Linked DNA regions of Homo sapiens: region 1 is linked to region 2. Evidence: fine-mapped expression QTL. Tissue or cell type: ovary. Region 2 holds a variant in brackets; the other region holds the start of a gene. All regions are shown on one strand. Distances are from middle to middle.

What was found. PIP is the estimated chance that this variant, and not a neighbour inherited with it, causes the effect.
Region 1: it holds the start of TMEM80, and the variant in region 2 is fine-mapped to the expression of TMEM80 in ovary (GTEx, PIP 0.91).

What each region holds. Positions count from the first base shown.
Region 1 is chr11:692,814-700,813 of GRCh38, reverse strand. It overlaps TMEM80 (transmembrane protein 80), which reads right to left and starts at 4,998. Exons shown (of 5, transcript NM_001042463.3): 1 at 4,968-4,998; 2 at 1,926-1,945; 3 at 579-672; 4 at 107-199. The coding sequence starts at 4,986. DEAF1 (DEAF1 transcription factor) reads left to right here and starts at 5,592. Exons shown (of 12, transcript NM_021008.4): 1 at 5,592-6,055. The coding sequence starts at 5,767. RefSeq lists enhancers at 3,454-3,993, 4,534-5,073, 5,074-5,615, 5,616-6,155 and silencers at 4,601-5,020, 5,521-5,820, 5,831-5,950, 5,971-6,220.
Region 2 is chr11:653,208-661,207 of GRCh38, reverse strand. DEAF1 (DEAF1 transcription factor) reads left to right here. Exons shown (of 12, transcript NM_021008.4): 11 at 7,157-7,246. It overlaps LOC124902603 (a long non-coding RNA gene), which reads right to left and starts at 6,185. Exons shown (of 2, transcript XR_007062543.1): 1 at 5,641-6,185; 2 at 2,104-4,234. The variant C/T (reference allele first, on the strand shown) is at 4,363.

The DNA of each region.
Region 1 (8,000 bases), 40 kb before region 2:
AAAATGTCTCTGAGAACCACACTATAAAATAATTACTCTTGAAAGGCTGTGGAAACAGATAGCAACTCTTAGGACAGGTTCTTCACGGTGTTAACAGTCCACTCACCCAGGTATAACCGAACTGCTTCTAGAATCCCCATCAGAAACAGCAGAGCAAGATCGAGGACCAGGTAGCGGTGAGGATAGCTGAACACCTGACCTGAAGAGCAGAGGCGCGGACGGAACATAAGTAACCTGGCACAGCAGCAGCAGCCACCTCAGCTTGCCTTTTCCTTTTTTTTTTTTTTGAGACAGGGTCTTGCTCTGTCACCCAGGATGGAGTTCAGTGGCGCAATCTTGGCTCACTGGAACCTCCACCTCCCGGGTTCAAGCAATCCTCCCACCTCAGTCTCCCGAGTAGCTGGGACTACAGGCGCCCACCACCACGCCCGGCTACTTTTTGTGTTTTTAGTAGAGATGGGGTTTCCCCATGTTGGCCTGGCTGGTCTCAAACTCCTGACCTCAAGTGATCCGCCCACCTCAGCCTCCCAAAATGTTGGGATTACAGGCGTGAGCCACTGTGCCCGTCCCTGACTTACTTTTATACGTGATCATCAGGAGCGTGGCGAGGAAATACAGGGCGTAGTACGTTCCGCTGAGATAAAACAGCATTTGAAGGGGAACTGAAGAGAGCTGGTGAGTGGTTAAGGATCCTCAAGCTCAACAGGCTTGGGAGCAGCCTCCCAGGTGGCTGAACAAGAGGGGCTGGTTCTGTCATCTGTTTGGTGGCCACAGACACCAAGGGACCATGGAGTCTTGGCAATGGCTCACTGCCTATCTGAGGCTTCTGTCACTATGCTGGCTGCCAATGTGGTCCCATGAGCTGACAAGGCCTTTGTGGGACCCCCCTCCATGCCACAACAATGCGGTCTGTGCACTGCAGCCCCTGCCCTCCTGACTGTGGACAGGACTGGTCAGGGGACAGCCTCCACACACTGGCATCCCCAGTGATGTCACCCTGCCTTTGGCCCCAGTTATGAGTTAAGAGAGAAAAAATAACTTTGTCATTTTCTTTTTTTTTTTGAGATAGAGTCTTGCTCTGTTGCCCAGACTGGACACTGTGCAGTGGCACAATCTTGGCTCACTGCAACCTCCGCCTCCTGGGTTCAAGTGATTCTTCTGCCTCAGCCTCCTGAGTAGCTGGGATTACAGGCGTGCAAAACCATGCCCAGCTAATTTTTTGTATTTTTAGTAGGGACAGGGTTTCACCATGTTGGCCAGGCTGGTCTGAAACTCCTGGTGTCAAGTGATCTGTCCACCTCAGCCTCCCAGAGTGTTGGGATTACAGGCATGAGCCACTGCGCCCGGCCACTTTTTTCAGTTTCTTCAGAGGAAATATATTTCTGTTTGGGGGACTTAAGTATCTAGTAGCCATTTCCTGAGCTGTGTACATTTCCTATTTGTTTATGCTAACATGAGTCTATGGGGCCAGGCACAGTGGCTCCCGCCTGATGCCAGAGCTTCAGGAGGCTGAGGCTGCAGTGAGCTGTGATTGCCACACTCCAGCCTGGGTGAGAGGAAGGCTCTGTCCTTAAAAAAACATAAACAAACAAAAATAAAATAAAATGAATCTAGGGACAAAGTGAGGGATTTCCATCTTCCTGCCACTAGCGGCCGAGACAGAGGCAGGTGGCCATCGCCTTGGGAGCCGGCAGTGTGGCGTGCTTAGCCACTTTGTGCAGGGCTGAGCAGGTAGGGGATGGAGCCAGCAGAACTGATCCGAGGAAGTTACATCAACTCTCTAAATCTGTCAAGGAACACCCCCCTCTCCAAAGTGGAATTACTAGACAGAACTTAGGGAAAACGTGGGGTGAGGCCGAGTGCTCTCTGTGCAGCAGCAATTCGGGCCTCTGGGTGCTGTCCTGGAGGGGCACGCAGCAGGATACCACTGTGGAGGATCCTCTCCCTGAAAGAGAAAGGGGCCGTGAGCAAGGCCTGACAGCCACCAGGATGCTTTCCCGGGTCTCGCTCCACACTGACAGGAACCACCCCTGCTTTATTTTCCTTTGATCTCGTATTTGTAGAAAGCAGCAAACATATACCGTGGGCCTGCCACTAGATAGCTCCCGTGCCTCTCTAACCATCCTTCAATGAGGCTAGGAGTCTCTGCCTTTCAGAACCTGAGGCTGGAGACAGCGAGTACCGGGGGCACCGGGGTGGGAAGTGAACCTGGGCCAGACCCAGCTGGCCCTCAGGGAAAGCAGCACCCTGGAGCCCACCCCAACAGCTGCTCTCATTGTCTGTGGCTCACCGTCTGTGGCTTCTCCGTATTTGCCACACATATATGACTAGATGAAAACCTTTTCTGACTTAGGTTGTAACAAATCTTTTTTCATGATTGATGAGACATTTGCTTTCCTCTGAAATTTTATCCCCAAATATCCCTCCAAAAATAAGGATTTTCCAAACCAGCAATGCAGCTGTCCAGTCTTTTTATCATGCAACCTCTTGGGCCTTCTCCCACCCCCACCTGAGAGATGACAGGAAGCCCGAGGAGTGAGTGGAGTCTCTTTCCTCCTTTTTGATTCTGAGGTTTTGCATCTGAAGACGCCTCTGACTCACCCTGGATCCACGCTGACCTGGAGCGGACTAATTGTCTGAAAAGGGCTCAGGCCAGTTGCACGTGTGATATGTGCACGTCCCTCCATGTGTAGATACCTCAATACACATCTAGAATTGGGTGGAAACCTCTCATAAAAGGAGGCTCAAGCTGCACCGCTGGGCGGCAGGCAGGACAGCAACCTGAACACAGCCTCTGTTCTATTTCCCCTTCAGCGCCAGGGAGGGCAGGACAGAAACCTGGCGTTGGTGAGATTTTGTGGCTGATCCCACAGCTTCTTGGGCAGATCTGGGGCCTTCTGTGCCAGAGTTTGTGGAATCTCACACAGGCAAGAGTTTTAAGCCAGTAAATACAGGACATCGGCATCAGAGACTCAGAACTGGGCTCCTGGAAGAGGCACCACAGGATGGAAGCAGGAAGCCAAGTGCACGGCAGACCACGCCGCATCGCGTTCCCGGCAGGCCACTCTTTAAACCCGATCTGTTCTTTTCCAGGCCTTAGCTAAACCAGGCCACCTAAATACCTGTCATTATCTGTGATGATTTCGCATTAATTGGGGTTTTTGTCCCTTCTGTTCCTTTTCTTAAAGGCTGGCTTCTTAAACACTTCCAATGTGTCTGCTAGTTGCTCACTGTTATAGATTGAAGTTATGGGGCTTGGGGGAAAAACTGTATAAAAGCCTTAAGTGATGTAACATTTTAATAATTAATATGAAGGGCGGCTATAACCAGATACGCTGTTCTAACAATTCCAGACCTGCAGGAGCTCATTCTGACCGAACGTAGCCTTGGCTTTCAGGACAACATTTTTTGTCAGTGACTTACTATAATCACAATGTGGCTACGAATAGCTGTGTCAGGCAGAAGTTAAACATGGAAGTGAAAGAGAACAAGTGTTTTCCCTGATGTAATGGACAAGATGTGTTAAGAAATCTTGTTTTGGTATACACTTAGTTTTTTTAGAGACAGGGTTTTGCTCTGTTGCCCAGGCTGGAGTGCAGTGGCCTGATCACAGCTCACTGCAGTCTCAACCTCCTGGGCTCCAGTGATCCGCCAGCCTCAGCCTCCCACGTAGCTGGGACCACAGGCTCCCTGAGGTAATTTTTTTTTTTTTTGAGACAGAATTTCGCTCTTGTTGCCCAGGCTGCAGTGCAATGGTGCGATCTTGGCCAACTGCAACCTCCGCACCCCACCCCCCCCACCACCACCACCGGGTTCGAGCAATTCTCCTGCCTCAGACTCTCAAGTAGCTGGGATTACAGGCATGCACCATCACGCCAGGCTAATTTTGTATTTTTAGTAGAGACGGGGTTTCTCCATGTTGGTCAGGCTGGTCTTGAACCCTCGACCTCAGGTGATCCGCCCGCTTTGGCCTCCCAAAGTGCTGGGATTACAGGCGTGAGCTACTGCGCCTGGCCTTCCCCGGGGTAATTTTTAATTTTTTTTTTGTAGAAGGGGGTCTCGCTCTGTCGCCCAGGCTGGAGTGCAGTGGCGCCATCACGGCTCACTGCAACCTCGACCTCCTGGGCTCAAGTGATCCGCCAGCCTCAGCCTCCAGAATAGCTTGGCCCACAGGGGTGCGCCACCGCCTGGCTGATGTTTACAGTTTTTTTTTTATAGAGGGGGTCTTGCTATGTTGCCCAGGCTGGCCTCAAATGATCCTGCAGCCTCGGCTTCCCAAACTGTCAGGCTTACAGGCCTGAGCCACTGCGCCCAACCTAAACTTAATTTTTAACCAAATGAAAATACACAAAACAAACCTGGTTACTAGAGGCTGTCCTGCCTATGGAGTAGCCATTCTTTATTCCTTCAAAACAATGCACCTAATTACTAGAGAACACGCACGAAGGTTTGGCACTTCAGCGCCCGCGTATGGGAGTTCTGGCTGTACCCACAGACAGCAGAAGGCGGCTCCTCTGCAGGATGGCCGATTTACTGCTTTGGTCTGTCCCTTCCTCCTCTCGGAGGCGAGTCTCTCAGGCAGGACGGCTGAGGCACCGGCGCCCGCGATTTTCTTTGGCGAGAGTTCCAAGGCTACCGAAACCCTGCGCCCATCCCGCCCACGTGTCTTCACAAAAACCACGCGCGGGACAAGAGCTGCCGGGGACTGGGGCCCCCAGAGCCGCTCCGCACCCACCCTGCCCGGGGCCAGGCGCCCGCGCGCGGGGGAGCTCTTCGGGGTGCAGGACGCCCGCCACCCAGGCCAGGCCAGGCCGCGCTTCTCGATGGGGTGACGGAGCTGTCTCGCTCACGTAGAGACGGTGGCACGGCCCCGTGAGCGCACCGAAAGCGGAAACCGGATTGTCACCACAGGGAAACGCCGCGCCCGCCGCTGCAAGCCCGGAAGCCCCCACCCCGCCCGAGCTCACCTCGCCGCGGGGCCGCCATCTTACCCGCCCCGCCCGCCGGTCCGTCGCGATCCCGGCAGCCTCTCGGCCCGCGCGCTCGCGCTCCTTCGGCCATTTTCGCGTCTCCTGACGAAGGGGCCCGACCGCGCCGCGTTTCGGGAGCGGACGTCCGAGCCACGGCCGAGGCCCGATTAGTCCGTCCGGCACCGCTCGGGCACTTTCGGAAGGGAAGAGGTGGAGAACCGACGTTCGGGAGCATTCGGCCTCGGGGACATTCGGCTCGTCTCGGCTCGGCCTCGGGCTGACTCGGCTTCCGCCGGCGGCGGGAACGGGCGAAACCCGCGGCACTAAGCTCTCTCTGAGAGGCAGAATTGCGCCGGCCGCCGGCGAGAATCTGCCTAGAGCCGTCCAGCCCTGTCGGCCGGGGACGACAGCCGCCTCAGCCTGTCAGGACAGTGAGGAGAGCAGGGGCCGAGTCTCTCGGAAGCCCTCGTGAGGACTCGGACCTATTCGGACTGATTCGGCTTCCCACTTCGGGGAACTTCGACCCTCCTCGGTTCAGGACTCGGTCTCGGCTCGGCGGCTTCGTGCAGGTTCGGCTCCTACTCGGGCAGCCTCTGTTCGCCTCGGCTCCGCTCCGCGGGCGGACTCGGCTCGGCTCTGCTCGGCGGCTGGCTGCCTTTTCGGTCCCTATTCGGGCGGCGGCTTCGGGCGGCCTCGGCCCAGCTCGGGCGTCCTCTTCGGGCCCCGCTTCGGGCTCCGCGACCGGCGCTTCGGGCGGTCCCGGACGGCGCCTTCGGGAAGGCTCGGCGGAGTCCGGATGGAGGACTCGGACTCGGCGGCAAAGCAGCTGGGCCTGGCTGAGGCGGCGGCGGTGGCGGCCGCGGCCGCTGTGGCGGCGGCGGCCGCGGCCGCGGCAGGAGGCGAGGCGGAGGAGCCGGTGCTGAGCAGGGACGAGGACTCGGAGGAGGACGCAGACTCGGAGGCGGAGCGGGAGACGCCGCGGGTCACGGCAGTGGCGGTGATGGCGGCGGAGCCCGGGCACATGGACATGGGCGCCGAGGCCCTGCCCGGCCCCGACGAGGCCGCCGCTGCCGCAGCCTTCGCAGGCAAGTGCGCCCGCCGGCCTCTCGCCTCGTCCGGTTCCCGCGCGCCTACCCCGCGCGCCTGCCCCGCACAACTGTCCCAGGTGACCAGCCCGCCACACCTGTCCCTCACACCTGCTCCACGTGACCAGCCCGCTCCACCCGCCCTGCACACCTGCCCCTCACACCTGCTCCACGTGACCCGCCCGCCCCACCCGCCCTGCACACCTGCCCCACGTGACTAGCTCACCCCTCACATCTGCCTCTCACACCTGCCCCACCCGCCCCTCACACTTTCCCCACGTACCTGCTCCAGGTGACCAGCCTGCCCCACCTGCCACAAATACCTGCCTCGCACACCTGCTCGACGTTTCCAGCCTTCCCCACCTGCCCCACGTGATCGGCCTGCCCTACCTGCCCCGCACACCTGCCCCACATACCTGCCCCAGGTGACCAGCCTGCCCCACCTACCCCAAACACCTGCCCCGCACACCTGCCCCTGGTGACCTGCCTAGCCTCACCTGACCTGGCCCTGCCCTGCACACACCTGCCCCCTGCCCCCCTTTTCTTTGTGGCAGCCCCGCCTCCTACTGGTCCCCCCTGTGCAGCTCTGCCCCTGCCCTGCCTTCGTCCATCCTGGCTCCCCCCACCTGTCCTGGAGAAGCCCTGGGGTGGGTGGGCACCTGTGGTCACCAGGAACCCCCCACTTCCTGAGGGCCAGTTCAGGCATGACCTGAGCGCTGGGGAGCCAGGGGTGGGCAGCCTGCTGGAGGCCATGATGCCAGAGGTCAGCGTGGCTGTGTGGTGGCCCAGGGGGGCTGCGGAGCCACCTGTGCAGGCTCCCCTCCCAGTCCTCCCTCTTCCTCTTGCCTTTTTCCCTAAGGACCTGCTCCTCCTGCCCCGCTTCCTGTCGGGCTTCCTTTGGGGAGGCTGCTGTGGCTTTCCAGTCCACATTTTTATATAAGCTGCTTATAGTTTCTTGCCACACAGGTCAGTCTCCTTCTCAGGCTCCAAAACACTGGGAGCCCGTGGCAGAGCTCACAGATGCCCTACGGGGCTGGTGCCGTCCACCCACCTCCTGTGTCCCGCCCTTGTGTCCGTGGGGCATAGACTTCCCCACCCACTGGCTTCCTAACGCACTGTATTCTTCCCCATTGGAGTTCCCGAGTGTCCCCCAGGGACTCACAGCTCAGTGTTGAGACCCTTGGGAGGAGCTTCTTGTTGCGTTGTGAGGCACTTTTCCCCTACGGAGCTTTGCGGGTTGAGGAACTGGATCCCAGTCCTGGTGTGCTGGGTATGTCAGGGCATTGCGTGTGCTCTGGGTGCTTGTTCGGCCTGGGGGCTGGGTGGGGGCCAGCAGCGTCTGGGCTGCCCTTGGTCAGCTGAGTGGCCCTCGAAGGCAAAGGGGTCACTGCTGCTTGTTTGGTTGGTTAAGAAAAAAAAGTGAGGGAAGGCTTTGTGACTCTCAGGGGTTGGCGTCCGTCGCTAAACTCTGGTTTGACGTTGGGATTTGGAGCCATGAGGTTGATTTCAGGTTTTTGTCATTTTTGCACGTATTTTTCTGAATGCATAAAAGAAAAATGATGCTGTTCATCATGATGTCAGAGAAATGTGCTGACGTGTGTTTTCTTCTGAAAAATATGGTAGTTGTGTTTTGATGTGGTAAAAGCACTTTAATACTTTTTAAAAATTACGAACAGCTGACGTCAAGTGGTTTCCAGGTTTAAGTAACTCAGCAGGACACGCTGCCGCCTGAGGAGGCTTTGGGCGGCTGCTCCCAGGGCTGCCATGGGCCTGGCGTTGAGCACTCACTGTGGCCGCGCGCCGCATGCCGGGGCTTGTGGTGCTGAGAGGCGAGGATGAGGGAACCGTGCACCTGGTGTGGTCTGGTCGTGGAGACAGACAGCAAACATGCCTTTTTTTTTTTTTGAGACGGAGTTTCGCTCTTGTTGCCCAGGCTGGAGTGCAA
Region 2 (8,000 bases):
TGGCCCCGGCTTGTTGTTGGCCATGCTGCCCTGAGCGCAAACCCCATTCCTCTAGCCTGTCCCCGTTTCTAGTAGCTCGCTCTCAGGCTTTCTCCAGTCTCCCTAACTTCCTTTTAAAGTGTTAAATATAGTACAGCACAGAAGGGTATGAAAGGGAGAAGAATACGTAAGTTGGACAGTAACAATGTCCTTGACTCCTAGGAAGCTCAGAAATAGGTCTGTGCTGTGCCTGGATGGTGCCTCCGTGCCTGGGGATCTGGAAGGGTGGAGACAGACCCCAGAGCAGCCGCTTCCCTGCGGGGGCCTCTCCCAACACCGTAAGGCCGCGGGTGCCTCAAGCAGCGCCGAGAGGGGCTTGTGTTTCAGTGACATTTCCTTGAAGTCCAGGTATGGGGTTTCTGTAAATGAAGGCTTTTGCCTGCCTTGTTCTCCAGTGTCAGCCTAACACTCACGTGAGCCAAATAGGCCCGGCCAGACCCAAGACAGCTCAGTCACCTGTTCCGCATCAAACATCAGATTCCAGAGCCGGACTGGACCAACGTCCTGCCGTGGCCCAGTGAGCGAGGGTTGCTGGCGTCTTTGGGATACTCGGGAGCAGCCCGCCATCCCCGTGTCCCCAGGGAACTCTTCAGAGCACCCCCCAGCAGCGTGGAAGCCCCCGGAAATGCAGGCTTGGAGTCCCCCGAGGGAGCCAGGGGTGTTGTGGTGGGAGGGGCGGCCAGGTGCCCGGGACGGGGTGAGGCGGCGCCGGCGGGGCAGCCTGGGAAAAGCACAGAGGTGGCTTTGCAGTCCCACTTCAGGGGGACCCTGCCTGACCTGGGATGAGGTGTGTGGGCTTTCTGGGGCAGGGGCGGGGACAGGTTGTAAATCTGAATTTGTCTGATGCTTCCTCAGAGATCTGTATCATGGTCATTTCATAGAAACGGCAAACTCTGTCCCAGCTCAAAAAGATGCTATTAGACTAATCCTTTGATCTCTTTACGTGTGCGGCTCAGCTTTCAGATAAACCTGCTTGATGTTTTGAGGGTTTTCTCTTATTTCCGTTGCTTCCTCGAGGGAGAGTAATCCAGTCTAATTTGCATTTCTCTTACTTTTAAGCTGAGCTGCTGCGCCCTCACGGGACACAGTCATGGGGAGCCCTCTGCCCCATGGTGGGCATTGGTGAAGCCACAGTGGTCCCGGGGGCAGACCTCAAGGGTGCACAGCAGCAGCCCCTTGGGCCCTGCCTGCCCAAGCCCCACCTGGCCCCACCTGCCCTGTGTTGGGGACTTTGTATTTCAGCCTCCATGCAGGGTGACGCTGGGACTCCCCAGCTTCCGGTTCACGGCTTCAGGGTCCAGCAGGTTCTCCTGAAGCCCCATCTACCGCTGGCTTCCTGCTCACTCTCCCCTCTCCCGCTCTGTCTCTCCAGAGGAGGCCGGGCCTGTGGAATTAGGCGGCTGCTTCACCTGAACTCACTGCAGTGCCGGGAAAGGAGCCTCTGGAACTAGACCCAGGAGCGGATCTGCAAAGGCTACTCAGGGTTCTCCCAGCGGCTCTGAACCCCGAGGCCAACTCGCCCTCCAATCACCTGGCCCCTGAAGCAGGCGGAGGCCCCTGTGCACAGTGGGCCTGTGGCCCCATTTGGTTCAGGAGTGATGGTGACACGGAGTTGGCTCCATCGAGGCTCCTGGCAGCATTACATCCTCTAAGAATAAGTCATAAAGAAAGCACTCCTTGTAAGATACACGATCCACCAGGCTGCCTCCAACCACAGCCTCATCTCCATCCGGGGTGTGTCTAGGTTTTCTTTTTTATTATTATTTTTTATCATTTGAGACATGTTCTCCCTCTGTCACCCAGGCTGGAGTGCACTGGTGTGACCTCAGCTCACTGCAACCTCCACCTCCCAGGCTCAAGCAATCCTCCCACCTCAGCCTCTCTGGTAGCTAAGAGGTGCATGCCACCATGCCCAGCTAATTTTTTTTTTTTTTTTTTTTGTAGAGACAGGGTTTTGCCATGTCACCTAGGCTGGCCTTAAACTCTTGGGCTCAAGCGATGCTCCCGCCTCGGCCTCCCAAAGTGCTGGGATTACAGGTGTAGCCACCATGCCTGGCCAGTATCTAGGTTTTCAAGTTAGACTTAGTTTTATTTGCAGAAAGAATAATGAATACATTATTAACTTATTCTTTGATAGTTAGAAATTAATAGGCATTTTATATGTGATCTTATGGTCTTACTCTTGGTTGGCTGTTTCTGAAGGAGTGGCTTTGTTATCTGTAATTTGTCTAATTTAAAAATCAATTATAATGAAACCAGCATATGTGATTCACAAGGCTTTTTTCCACCTGGACCAGAGTACACCAGCTATTGCATTGCCAAAAGTAGGTGTGTTCCTGTTGTGTGATGTGCAGATGGGGGGCCCCTGCAGCAGGGAAGGCAGGCCAGGAAACCCCTTCGCAGTCTCTGCTGAGGGGCTGGACCCGCTGCTTGGGCGGGACTCCCCGCAGGGTGCTCTGCTGCAGTCTCCTCCTCTGCCCGCCTGCGGCCCAGAGAACTCTGAATGCTAATGGCAATGCCAGCTGCTTGGCAGCATGAGCTTCTTGGGGCGCCTGGGCAGGCCTGGGCACTTCTGCCCTTTGTGCCATCCGCAGTCCTGTGATTTCCTGACAGTTTCCTGAAAGCGCAGAATGGGACTTGTCGATGTCCTTGGCTGCGGAAACGCGGTGTCTTGTCCTAACCTTCTGCAACGCACACACACCTCTTCCGCAGTAATGAATGGTTTTTTGTTTTTGTTTTTGAGACAGAGTCTAGCTCTGTCACCCAGGCTGGAGTGCAGTGGCGCGTTCTCGGCTCACTGCAAGCTCCACCTCCTGGGTTCATGCCATTCTCCTGCCTTAGCCTCGCGAGTAGCCGGGAGTACAGGCACCCGCCAACACGCCTGGCTAATTTTTTTGTATTTTTAGTAGAGACAGGGTTTCACCGTGTTAGCCAGGATGGTCTCGATCTCCTGACCTCGTGATCCGCCTGCCTCAGCCTCCCAAAGTGCTGGGATTACAGGCGTGAGCCACCGTGCCCGGCTAATGAATGGTTATTTTAAAAAATAAACGTATTTCGGGATAATTTTAGGTTTACAGAAAAGTTGCAAAGTGAGCGCAGAGGGTCCCTTCTGCCACTCCGCAGCCTCCCCTCTGTAACTTCAAAGCCCACAGGGCATGGCTGTTGTAGCTGAGAAACCGTCGCTGGGTGTCCCTGTGAACTCCGGACTTTGAATTTCACTATCAATGTCCTGTTTCTGCTCTAGGACCTTGTCCCCGCTGCCACCTGTGGGAGACAGCCTCCCGTGCACCATTTGCCCAGCACCCTCAGGCCTGTGACGGTCTCTCAGTCTTTCCTTGTCTTCCATGCCCTGCAGTTCTGAGAGGGCCTGGCCAGGCAGTTTGTCCAGGTGCCCCGATCCAGGCTTGTCTTGTGCTTTCTCGTGGGGGTGGACGACAGGTTTCAGGGAGGGGTGCTGCCGCCTGTCTCACCCCACTGTGGCGTCCCTGACATCCAAGTGACATTACAGACAGCTCTGACCTTCCTCACCAGAGTCAGGTGTCTGTAGGTGTCTCCTTGGTGACAGGACTGCTTCTCCCTTTGCACATTTAGTCAGGCAGCAAGTCCACGGCCGTGGGGGGGCTTCTCCTAGACGGGAGGATCTGGAATAGCTTGGACTTGTATTTATTTATTTGATCATTTGTTTGTATCCGGATGGGCTCATTTTATATGTGTTTTAAACTCTGAGCTAGAAGGCAACACTACTTTCTTGTGAAGCACACCATCTGTCCTTGGCCCTAGGGAGCTCCTGCCGTCGGCTCCTGGGTCCCCTGATGCACCCCTTTCAACAGACTTTTCATTTTGGGGTACGTCCTGACTTCCTGGCACTGCAGGGTGCTCCAGCCTCCTCTTGCATTCCCTGCCCTGGCCCGGGAATCAGCCCCTTCTCCAAGGAGCCCCGGGTCCTTTTATTGGCAAGTCTTAAGAGAGTGAGGCCTGGGTGCCAGGCAGGGAGCCCCAGGTCCTTTTATTGGGAAGTCTTAGAGAGTGAGGCCTGGGTGCCAGGTGGGTGCCAGGTGGGTCCGGTGCTGCTGGGATGTTGTCACGTGGAGGCCCTCAGCTGCAGAGCAGGGACGAGGGTGTCACCTGTTCAGCTGCAGAGCAGGGATGAGGGTGTCACCTGTGTGTATGAACATCTCCGCAGCCACTTCTGTATCTGTGAAGAGAACATGAGTTCATGCTACTGCCTCTGACTCTAATTCAGACCCCAAAGCTCCTTCTAACCTTCCTAGAACGTTATTTTTCAGTTTAAAAAAAAAAAAAAGTTTTGCAAAGGGCATACCG[C/T]GAAAGGCCCAAGTGGTTGAAAGTCCCAGCTGAGGCTGAAGAGGCGCCTGCGAGGCAACAGGACAGGCTTCCCGTTCAGTTCAGGGGTGCTGTCCTCCAGGAACTATGCTGGGGGGCAAGTACAGGACGTCCTGGTGTGTGGTGCACAGGGACTGCTGGACACGGAGACCCGTGCCCTTCTCAGCGTGGGGGCCGCTCCCCGGGACAGTGACCACGCTCCCGCCAGCCTCCCACCCCACCTGACCTCTGTCTGTGAGGGGCTGGACCAGGGTCCTGCCTGGCCCGGCCATCCACAGAGCAACCCAGAATGTTAATAAAGCCTGCAGAAGCTGTGTTCTCCTTCGAGAAGCTTCTCTGTGGTTACAGACTTTTTAAGAAATATTTTGTCGGCTGGGCTTGGTGGCTCATGCCTGTAATCCCAGCATTTTGGGAGGCCAAGGCAGGCGGATCACCTGAGGTCAGGAGTTTCCGAGACCAGCCTGGCCAACAGGGCAAAACCCCGTCTCTACTAAAAATACAAAAATTAGCCAGGCATGGTGGCAAGCGCCTATAATCCCAGCTACTTGAGAGGCTAAGGTGGAAGCATTGCTCGAATCTGGAAGGTGGTGGTTGCAATGAGCTGAGATCGTGCCACTGCACTCCAGGCTGGGCGACAGAGCGAGACTCCATCTCAAAAAAAAAAAAAAAGTTTGTCATTTAAAGTAGAGGCACAGGCCAGGCGCGGTGGCTCATGCCTGTAATCCCAGCACTTTGGGGGGCCGACTCAGGTGGATCATTTGAGGTCAGGAGCTCGAGACCAGCCTGACCAATATGGTGAAACCCCATCTGTACTAAAAATACAAAAAAATTAGCCAGGCGTGGTGGTCCGTGCCTGTAGTCCCAGCTGTGGGGAGGCTGAGGCACAAGAATCACTTAAACCCAGGAGGTGGAGGTTGCAGTGAGCCGAGATTGCGCCACTACACTCCAGCCTGGGCGACAGAGTGAGACTCCATCTCAAAAAAATAATAATAATAATAAATAAATAAAGTAGAGGCAGGGGGCAACCTAAATTAGCACCAAAATTCCTCCTAATGCTCCTGTTTTCTGAAGTGAGTGACTGAATGTCGGAGCTCTGAATGTCTTACAACTGGAAAAATGTTAAAGATCACGTTTGCGAAGGAGGGAGGCAAGCATCAGAACAGAACCTCGGAGCAGGTCTGCACGCGTGCAGGGGCCGTGGGGCCGCGCTGGAGTCGTTTCCTGTGCTGCTCTGTGCTGCTCACAGACGCTGCCACTCACCCACTGGCCACGGCCCCTCCCGCAGCTGCGGATGATCTGGGCGCATAGCGGGCGTGCAGGTCGCGGCGCCAAGGCCTCTCCTAGGCCCAGTGGTCTTCTCCGTCTCAGAGAGCATTGACGGCGGAGCTCACAACTGTCAAGCACCTTAGTCATGCCGCAAACATTAATCATTGACAGCATGTTGACCTATGCGCTGATTAAAAAGAAAAGCTCCAATAATGTAATTCCAGGAGAAAGTACACAAACCTCTGGTGGCATCTTTTCAATCCACCACAGAAACCAGCTCAGGTGGGGCCGTGGGGGTGTTGGCTGGGGCACCGCCGCAGCAGTTTGGGACACATGCCTGCCACGGTGCGCCCAGGCTGATGCCCACAGCCCTGCTCAGGAGTGTTGGGAGCGGTGGACTCCTGAGTTTGATTTTCTGTGCTGGCCTGGCTGGAGTGAAGCTCCTTGGAGTTTGGAGAAAGATTTCCATGCTGATTTCCCTTTGTTTTTGTTTGTTTGTTTGTTTGTTTGTTTTGGAGACAGTCTTGCTCTGTCGCCCAGGCTGGAGTGCAATGGTACAATCTCGGGGTTTCACCGTGTTAGCCAGGATGGTCTCGATCTCCTAACTTCGTGATCCGCCCACCTCAGCCTCCTAAAGTGCTGGGATTACAGGCATGAGCCACTGCATCCGGCCCTGATTTCCCTTTTTTTTTGAGATGGGAGTCTCGCTCTGTCACCCAGGCTGGAGTGCAGTAGTGCAATCTCGGTTCACTGCAACCTCCGCCTCCTGGGTGCAAGCTATTCTCCCACCTCAGCCTCCCAGGTAGCTGGGATTACAGGTGGCCACCACCACACCCAGCTAATTTTTGTATTTTTAGTAGAGACTGGGTTTCGCAACGTTGCCTGTGCTGAACTCCTGACCTCAGGTGATCCACCCGCCTCGGCTGCCCAAAGTCCTGGGATTACAGGTATGAGCCGCTGCTCCCGGCCCATACTGGTCTTCCAGTGAATGAATGTAGGGGGCAAACTGCACTGAGGCCAGGAAAGAGCTGATTCTGGAGGTGACAAGAACGTTCTGAGCAGCACTGGGGCAGAGGCGCAGTCAAGAGTCCAATGGGAGCTGGGCGCAGTGGCTCACGCCTGTAATCCCAGCACTTTGGGAGGCCGAGGCAGGTGGATCACGAGGTCAGAGGTTCAAGACCAGCCTGACCAACATGGTGAAACCCTGTCTCTACTAAAAATACACAAATTAGCTGGGCGTGGTGTCAGGCACCTATCATCCCAGACTCAGGAGGCTGAGACAGGAGAATTGCTTGAACCCAGGAGGCGGAAGTTGCAGTGAGCTGAGATCGCACCACGGCACTCCAGCCTGGGCGACAGAGTGAGACTCCATCTCAAAAAAAAAAAAAAAAAAAAAGGGGGTCCAATGGGGGGAACTTGGGGCCTCCTGCCTGCACCTGCCTCTGTCCCCGGTGTCTCAGGGGCTCTCCACGGCCACGTCACTGACTGGCCTGTTGTGTCCTTCTTGCAGCAGTCCTGCGTTAACTGCGGCCGGGAGGCTATGAGCGAGTGCACCGGCTGCCACAAGGTCAACTACTGCTCCACCTTCTGCCAACGCAAGGTAGGTCTCACCTACACCAGGCTCAGTGCCCCCGCCTCCTCCCTCGCTACGAAGACCCCTGGGTGGCCCTCCCTCCCCTTGTGCTCCTGGTGCCACACCTGACTCCCCTCCCTGTCCCTCCCTCTGGGAATCCGGGGCTCCTGCCTGGCTCCGTGAAGACCCTGCAGAAGGCTCACATGTGACATGGCCAGGTAGTGCTCTCATGTGAGGCCCCACAGTTGGTGGCCGGAAACCCTGAGGGCTGCTGGTCAGTGCTTCCCAGCCCTCCACACCCCTGCACAGCCACGCAAGAGAGACTGTCCACAGTTCCATTATTGAGCCCTCCACACCCCTGCAGAGCCACGTGAGAGAGACTGTCCACAGTTCCTCTATTATTCAGCCCTCCACACCCCTGCAGAGCCACGCAAGAGAGACTGTCCACAGTTCCTCTATTATTGAGCCCTCCACACCCCTGCAGAGCCACGCGAGAGAGACTGTCCACAGTTCTTCTATTATTGAGCCCTCCACACCCCTGCAGAGCCACGCGAGAGAGACTGTCCACAGTTCCTCTATTATTGAGCCCTCCACACCCCTGCAGAGCCACGCGAGAGAGAGCGTCCACAGTTCCTCTATTATTGAGCCCTCCACACCCCTGCAGAGCCACGCGAGAGAGAGACTGTCCACAGTTCCTCTATTATTGAGCCCTCCACACCCCTGCAGAGCCACGCGAGAGACAGCGTCCACAGTTCCTCTATTATTCAGCCCTCCGCTCCAC